Regions from separate parts of the Homo sapiens genome. Here regions 1 and 2 are each linked to region 3. The links come from fine-mapping of genetic effects on gene expression. A gene starts in region 3. Each other region holds a variant in brackets. All regions are shown on one strand. Distances are from middle to middle. Region 1 overlaps CDH1 (cadherin 1). Region 2 overlaps CDH1 (cadherin 1). Region 3 holds the start of CDH1 (cadherin 1).

Region 1 (2,759 bases), 35 kb before region 3:
TGTTACAACTTCCATCTCATTTCAGACAATTCTCCTTCCACCACTTATAACAAGCCACAACCCTTTAGAGACCCATTTCCACAAGCAAAATTCTTTTTGTCTAATGTATTACGATGAAGTTCTTGAGTGCTGAGCTCCTAAACCCACTTTCCCATAAGCCTGGTGGTTTTGGTTTTTGTTTTTGTTTTTTGAGACTGGGTGTCACTCTGTTGCCCAGGCTGGAATCCAGTGACACAATCATGGCTCACTGCAGCATTGACCTCCCAGGCTCAAGCGATCCTCCCACCTCAGCCTTCTGGGTAGCTGGGACCCCCAGGTAATTTTTTTGTACTTTTTGTATTTTTTGTTAGGATGGGGTCTCACTCTGTTGCCCAGGCTGGTCCTGAACTCCTGGGCACAAGCGATCCACCTGCCTCGGCCTCCCAAAGTACTGGGATTACAGGCTTGAGCCACCGTGCCCAGCCTAAGTCTGGTGTTTTTCATGGGCAATTTGACATAGTGTGGTGATTTTGAGGAAGACCTACATCACAGGGTATGGAGTGAAGTATATATAAGATCTGTATACGGTGCGGGTTAGCCCAGAGCCAGGCCAGTTGTAAGTGGTCCATAGATGTCAGCTGTGACTGTTCTCTCGCTCTGAATGTAGACAGAGCCTGGTGCATAAAAGATGCCCAGTGAACATTTATTGAATTTTCCTTGATGGGTCTATGGCTTATTAATCTTAGTGAACTAATTAAAGAGACTTATCTATCTCTCCCATATGTTGGAGAGGGACAAACCATAAATTAGAGAGGAAGCTTCCAAGTTCTAATGGAGCCCCGCCCTTCCATGCATGGCACGAAGAGGATAAGAAAGGCAGTGTCCCTGTCTGCTAGGCCTGCCCGATTAGGTGGTAAGCAAGGCAAGGACATATGCGATTGGCCGTTGTGTGGCAACACGGGGCCAATTTTGAGATAAGGAGCCTAGACCCTGAGTCCTTAAGTCAGGGTCCCAGTGTAGCATTAAGTGGTTGAGAGCCCCAGGTCAGAGGTCAGACGACCCAAGTTCAAGCCCCAGATCCACTTATCAACTATGCCACCTTGGGCATGTGATTTCACCTCTCCTGCCTGCCTCGATTTCCTCATATGCAAAACAGAAATAGTGATGGTCTCTATTTCCTAAGGGGATGGGATGATTCAACAAGTTAATCCACGTAAAGCCCTTTAGCACTGTCAGACACAGAATAAAAGCTCAATGGGCTAGGCACGGTGGCTCGCGCCTGTAATCCCAGCACTTTAGGAGGCAGAGGCAAGAGGCCAGGTATTTGAGACCAGCCTGGGCAACATAGTGAGATCTCTTTACAAAAAAAAAATTTTTTTTTTTTTTTGAGAGGGAGTCTTGCTCTGTCGCCAGGCTGGAGTGTAGTGGTG[C/T]GATCTCGGCTCACTGCAACCTCCACCTCCTGGGTTCAAGCGATTCTCCTGTCTCAGCCTCCCTAGTAGCTGGGACTACAGGCATGCGCCACCACGCCCAGCTAATTTTTGTATTTTTAATAGAGACGGGGTTTCACCATGTTGGCCAGGATGGTCTCGATCTCTTGACCTTGTGATCCACCCGCCTCCACCTCCCAAAGTGCTGGGATTACAGGCGTGAGCCACCGCGCCCGGCTACAAAAAATTTTTTTAAATTAGCCAGGTATGGTGGCACGTGCCTATGGTCCCAGCTACTCGGGAGGCTCAGATGGGAGGATTGCTTGAGACTAGGAGTTCGAGACTACAGCGAGCTGTGATCTGCACTGCACTCCAGCTTGGGTGACAAAGTGAGACCCTGTCTTAAAAAGAAAAAGAAAAAAGGGCTCAATACACATTAGCTGCTATTCTGGGATTCTAGGGCTGAAAAAGAAGATCAGAGCCTGCGTAGGAAAGCGTAGGTGTGAGTAGCAGCCAGGGAAGGTCTGAGTTGCCTGGGACTGCAAGGCAGAACAGCCAGGAGCTAACTTCCACCAACCACGCGCCCCGAACCCTTTCTCACACACCAGCCCGCACTTAGCCGTGTCCATGGAAGAAATGAGAATCAGCTCTGTCTCCTGCACATCATTTCCAAAAGACGGGAGAGCCTCCTCCACTGGCGGGGAAAGGATTCCTATGGAACCTGACGCAGGAGTTGGCTGCACGGTCTGGTTTGCATCACTTCGTCTCGGTGGAAGCTGATGGAGGCAGAGGCACTTATCTGTCCTTCAGAAGATAAGGTCTAAAAAACTAGAGACCAGCTCTAGCCTCTGCCTTCCCCTCCCAGCTTATCTCCCGCCTGTGAGCCCATCTACCCACCAGGCCCTGCCACACTGGGCCTCTTGCCCACTCCACACACTGCGCTCCTTCCTGTCTCAGGCTCTCAGCCCTTGCTGTTCCTCTGCTTGGAATTCTCTTCCTACTGCTCTCTTCATGGTGTCCTCCTTTCTACCACTAGGTACCACACAAACATCCTCCTGCCTGATCCACTCCTCAGCTAAAGGGGCCCTGCACCACTACCCCAGGCACTCCCTACCCCGTTTCACTGCTTTACATCCTTCTAGAATGTGCTGCCCTCTGAAATCCTTATTTATTGCCACGTTCCCTGAAGGTGCGAGGCTGGTGCCTGGCCCACAGCAGGCTCTGAATGAATCTGGATGTCAACTGGCTGGTACCCACCTGAAGGCAGAGGCAGAGTCATTCAGCTGTCCATGAACATCCCCTAAGGGCCCTCTATGTGCTGCGGACTGAGCTTTGGGCTCCGGGAGTGGGGAT
Region 2 (2,759 bases), 68 kb before region 3:
GGAGCTAGACTGCCTGGCTTTGAATCCTCATGACAGTACCTCCTTGCCCCAGGCAGATATTACTTAATTTCTCTGTATTACAGCTTCCTAATGTCTGAAATGGGGATAATATTAGAACCTATCTCATATAATTCTTGGAAGGATTAAATGAGATGCTGGTATTGCACATTTAAAGCACTGTGAATACTGCCTGAAACATAGTAAGTGCTCAATAAAGGTAATGATGGAGATGATGGTTGGACTGGTTGGAAAACACTGAGTTATGGTTTTATTGAGATTTGACCCCAGCACATGAACAAAATAAAAAACTGACCATCATCACTGTATCCTGGGCCAGGCGTGGTGGCTCACACCTGTAATCCCAGCACTTTGGGAGGCTAAGGCAGGCAGATCACTTGAGGTCAGGAGTTTGGGATCAGCTTGGCCAACGTGCCAAAACCCTGCCTCTACTAAAAATACAAAAATTAGCCGGGCATGGTGGCACACACGGGGTCCCAACTACTTGGGAGGCTGAGGCGTGAGAATTGCTTGAACCCGGGAGGCAGAGGTTGCAGTGAGCTGAGATCATGCCACTGCACTCCAGCCTGGATGACAGAGAGAGATTCTGTCTCAAAAATAAATAAATAAATAAATAAATAAATAAATAAATAAATAAATATACAAAAATTAGCCAGGCATGGTGGCATGTGCCTGTAATTCAAGCTACTCAGGAGGCTGAGGCAAGAAAATAGCTTGAATCTGGGAGGCAGAAGTTGTAGTGAGCCGAGATTGTGTCACTGCACTCCAACCTGGGAAACAGAGCGAGACTCTGTCTCAAAAACAAAAACAAAAACCAATCCCAGAAAAACCACTGTATCCTAAGCCTTAAAACAGCCACCTTGGCCAGGCCTGGTGGCTCATGCCTGTAATCCCAGCAGGCTTTTTCCTTTGGGAGGCTGAGGCGGGTGGATCACCTGAGGTGAGCTCAAGACCAGCCTGGCCAACATGGTGAAATCCTGTTTCTACTAATAATACAAAAATTAGCTGGGTGTGGTGGTGCACACCTGTAATCCCAGCTACTCAGAAGGCTGAGGCAGAAGAATTGCTTGAACCCAGGAGGTGGAGGTTGCAGTGAGCTGAGATTGTGCCATTGCACTCTAGCCTGGGTGACAAGAGTGAAACTGCATCTCAAAAAAGAAACAAAAACAAACAAACAAAACAACAACAAAAACTGGCCACCTTGCACAGCCATGGTGAGCACATGGGCACTGATGGATGAATGCAAACCCAGTTATCACAATGAAAGGAAAGGAACATGCATGCCTTGCTGACACCAGGACTGTGGAATATTTTCAGAGAATGAATAATGATGAACACTGTGCTGGCAAAACATCACACTAACATTTTCATGTGTTAAATGAAAGGGAGTCATGCCTGAAAACACTGCACGTGGAAGTGATCCCTCAGAAAAATAGGATACCAGGTGGGGCACGGTGGCTCACGCCTATAATCCCAGCACTTTGGGAGGCCAAGGCAGGTGGACTGCTTGAGGTCAGGAGTTCAAGACCAGCCTGGCCAACATGGTAAAACCCCATCTGTACTAAAA[A/T]CACAAAAGGAAGGGAAATGGAAGAAGAAGAAAAGAAAAGTAAAAAGAAAAGAAAGGAAGGATGCCAGACTGAGAAAACTCACCCAAATAAGATGAAAGGACTAGAGACTAAGATCTATTCTTACACAAATTTAGAGATTTTGAGCCTGCGCAACAAAGTGAAACCCTATCTCTACAAAAAAAAAAAAAAAAAAAAAAATTAGCTGGGCATGGTGGTGCACCCTGTGGTCCCAGCTACATGGAAGATTGAGGCAGGAGGATTGCTTGAGCCTGGGAGGTCAAGGCTGCAGTGAGCTGTGTTCCCACCACTGCACTCCAGCCTGGGTGACAGAGCAAGACTCTGTCTCCAAAAAAAAAAAAAAAAAAAAAAAGATTTTGTTACCTGGATATGTTGTTTTTTAAAAAAGTTAAAAATTAATCAATATATAATGAAAGCGAGGTAAGACTGCCATCTAATTACAGTACCACCTGGTTCCAGAAGGATCCTTTGAACTATAGAGACAAACCAAGGTGAATCTCAAACCAGCTGAGGCATAATCTGCTACCTACCACCCAATATCCACTCTTTGTTTCTGATTAAAAACAAAATAAAAACCTATCTCTCCAATATATATCTCAATTTTGTAATTCTGGAATATACATTCCAGAAATGTATTCATATGAAAGACTACATTCCCTACACTGCATGTGCAGCTAGATGTGGTCATGAGGCTAAATTTTGGCCAGTGTTTCTCAAGTGTTGCTTGTGGAGAATTCCACAAAGGTTTCTTAAAAGGCAGATAGGGCCGGGCGCAGTGGCTCACACCTGTAATCCCAGCACTTTAGGAGGCCGAGGCAGGTGGATCACAAGGTCAGGAGATCGAGACCATCCTGGCTAACACGGTGAAACCCCGTCTCTACTAAAAATACAAAAAATAAGCCAGGCGTGGTGGCGGATGCCTGTAGTCTCAGCTACTCAGGAGGCTGAGGCAGGAGAATGGCATGAATCCGGGAGGTGGAGCTTGCAGTGAGCTGAGATCGCGCCACTGCACTCCAGCCTGGGTGACAGAGCGAGACTCCATCTCAAAAAAAAAAAAAAAAAAAAAAAAAAAAAGGCAGACAGATAACTAAGTAATGAATTTTTATGCTTCTCCTTTCTCCTTCTTATTGCTTAGAATAAAGACATGATTAAAAA
Region 3 (2,753 bases):
TAGATGGAACCGGGTGACTCGGAGGGTTCCCTCCTGCTCACCGAAACCAACAGCGCCGCCCCTCCCTCGCTCCCGGCGTCGGGATTGGGGGAGGACCCCAGCCCGCAGCCCCGGGACGGGCGGGCAGCGACGTCACCCTCCCCCACCCCGAAACCTACGGCCGCCGAGCCCCCAGGAACTCCCGGGAGGGGGCCGCCGAGTCACCCCCTCAAGACCTAGCCCACCGTTCCCTTTCAGTCTCCTTTCTCATTTTATTGGAGATGTCTTTATTCTCCAGTACCCCACTTTCCTTAGACCGGGAATGCACCACTCCTCAGAGCGAGGGGCGCTCCCACCTCCTCCGACCTCACTTTCTTATCCCCGGGACCCTCACTCCTATTTACGACCTTTCTTGGCATGGCAGGTGCCTTTATTTCTACGGATGCCCCTCTCCTTCCCTCGAAGATCGTCCCCACGACTCCTGGCTCCCCCTCGACTTGCACCAGGGCACCCCTTCTCCACACCCCACCCCCTACACCCCGCTTCACGCCCCCACCGCCCGCGCGAGCCCACCCCGCGGACTCCGCGGCCAGACGCCCCCGCCTCGGTCTGCGCTGGAGGGGGCAGGAAAGCCGCGCTCGCCCCTCACCACCCACCCCCCACTCCCATCACTGGGGGGTCCGGAGCGCGCGAGGCTTCCAGGCCGCTCCGCTCCTCAGGACCCGAACTTTCTTGGAAGAAGGGAAGCGGTGACGACGGGAGAGGAAGGGGCGCAGGGCTGGGGCGCGGAGCTTGCGGCCCGAATGCGTCCCTCGCAAGTCAGGGGATCCGGGGTACCTGCAGCAGCAGCAGCAGCGCCGAGAGGCTGCGGCTCCAAGGGCCCATGGCTGGCCGGGGACGCCGAGCGAGGGCAGGCGCCGGGTGCGGTCGGGTCGGGCCGGGCTGGAGCGGGCTGGAGTCTGAACTGACTTCCGCAAGCTCACAGGTGCTTTGCAGTTCCGACGCCACTGAGAGGGGGTGCGTGGCTGCAGCCAGGTGAGCCCCGGAGGCACCGCCCCCCGTACCGCTGATTGGCTGAGGGTTCACCTGCCGGCCACAGCCAATCAGCAGCGCGGACCCCTCCCCAGGGCGGAGCTGACGGCCCGCCCACCCGGCCTCGCATAGACGCGGTGACCCTCTAGCCTGGAGTTGCTAGGGTCTAGGTGGGTTATGGGACCTGCACGGTTCTGATTCCACTGGGTTCGAATCCCAGCCCCGCCGGTGGCTCACTAAGACCTGGGATCAGAAAGGGCTTTTACACTTGGCTGAGTTCTTTTGTTTTTTGGGATTTTTTGTTTGTTCGTTTTGGAGATGGGGTCTCACTCTTTCACCCAAGCTGGAGTGCAGTGGTGCGATCACAGCTCACTGCAGCCTCGAACTCCTGGGCTCAAGCGGTCCTCTGGCCCCAGCCTCTCTAGTAGCTGGGAGTACAGGTGCACACCACCACGCCAGGCTAATTTTTTTTTCTTTTGCCTTTTTGTAGAGAGACAAGTCGGGGCGGACAGGGGCAGTGGGGGCGCTGTGTCTCCCTGTATTGCCCAGCCTGGTCTCGAACTCCTGGGCTGAAGCGATCCTCCTGCCTTGGCCTCCCAAAGTGCTAGGATTTCAGGTGTGAGCCATGAGCCACTGAGCTAGCAGCCTAATTTTTTGTTTGTTTGTTTTGTTTGTATTTTTTGAGACGGAGTCTCGCTCTGTCTTGCCCAGGCTGGAGTGCAGTGGCACGATCTCGGCTCACTGCAACCTCCGCCTGCCGGGTTCAAGAGACTCTCCTGTCTCAGCCTATTGAGTAGCTGGGACTACAGGCGTGTGCCACCACACCGGCTAATTTTGTATTTTTAGTACAGACGGGGTTTCACCATGTTGGCCAGGCTGGTCTGGAACTCCTGACCTCAGGTGATCCACCCTCTTCAGCCTCCTGAAGTGTTGGATTACAGGCGTGAGCCACTGCACTCTGCCTCGAGCGGCCTAATTTTTTAAAAAATTTTTCTAGAGAGGGGATCTCACTATGTTGCCGAGGCTGATCTCAAATTTCTGAACTCAGGCGATCCTCCTGCCTCAGCCCCTTTACTGAGTTCTCATTTTTTAATCTAGTCTTTTTTAACTGTAGAGCTTCATGGGTTAGTGAGTCAGCAAATTGATTCCCTAGGTCAGGACCACCTCCCAAAGCCTCAGTTTCTCCACCCTCCTAATGGGAATAATGATCAGAAATGTCTCCCTATGCTGTTGTGGGACTCCCATACAATTAAAATGACAAATGTTTCTTGAGCCATAAATGCTCTGTACAGAAGTGAGGGGTAAAAATAGTAACAATAGGGCCAGGCATGGTGGCTCACGCCTGTAATCCCAGCACTTTGGGAGGCCGAGGCGGGCAGATCACGAGGTCAGGAGATTGAGACCATCCTGGCTAACGCAGTGAAACCCCGTCTCTACTAAAAATACAAAAAATTAGCCAGGCGTGGTGGTGGGCGCCTGTAGTCCCAGCTACTCGGGAGGCTGAGGCAGGAGAATGGCATGAACCTGGGAGGTGGAGCTTGCAGTGAGCCGAGATCGCGCCACTGTACTCCAGCCTGGGCGACAGAGCAAGACTCTGTCTCAAAAAAAAAAAAAAAAAAAAAATAGTAACAATAGGTGCTGGACATTGAAGATTACTGTGCCAGTCTCTGTGCTAAGCATTTGACACTGACCAGCTCTTTTTTTTTTGAGACGGAGTCCTGCTCTGTCGCCCAGGCTGGAGT

The links. PIP is the estimated chance that this variant, and not a neighbour inherited with it, causes the effect.
Region 1: its variant is the best candidate, but not a certain one, in a credible set for the expression of CDH1 in whole blood (TOPMed, PIP 0.73).
Region 2: its variant is the best candidate, but not a certain one, in a credible set for the expression of CDH1 in lung (TOPMed, PIP 0.81).

The regions. Positions count from the first base shown.
Region 1 is chr16:68,770,358-68,773,116 of GRCh38, reverse strand. All of the region lies in intron 2 of CDH1 (cadherin 1), which reads right to left. Among named protein-coding and RNA genes, the nearest start is that of CDH1, 34 kb to the right of the region's middle. RefSeq lists an enhancer at 717-1,011. The variant C/T (reference allele first, on the strand shown) is at 1,410.
Region 2 is chr16:68,804,022-68,806,780 of GRCh38, reverse strand. The region is part of intron 3 of CDH1 (cadherin 1); the gene reads right to left. Among named protein-coding and RNA genes, the nearest start is that of TANGO6, 38 kb to the left of the region's middle. The variant A/T (reference allele first, on the strand shown) is at 1,586.
Region 3 is chr16:68,735,527-68,738,279 of GRCh38, reverse strand. It overlaps CDH1 (cadherin 1), which reads right to left and starts at 988. Exons shown (of 16, transcript NM_004360.5): 1 at 817-988. The coding sequence starts at 864. RefSeq lists a silencer at 873-942, a cis regulatory region at 1,895 and an enhancer at 1,823-1,967.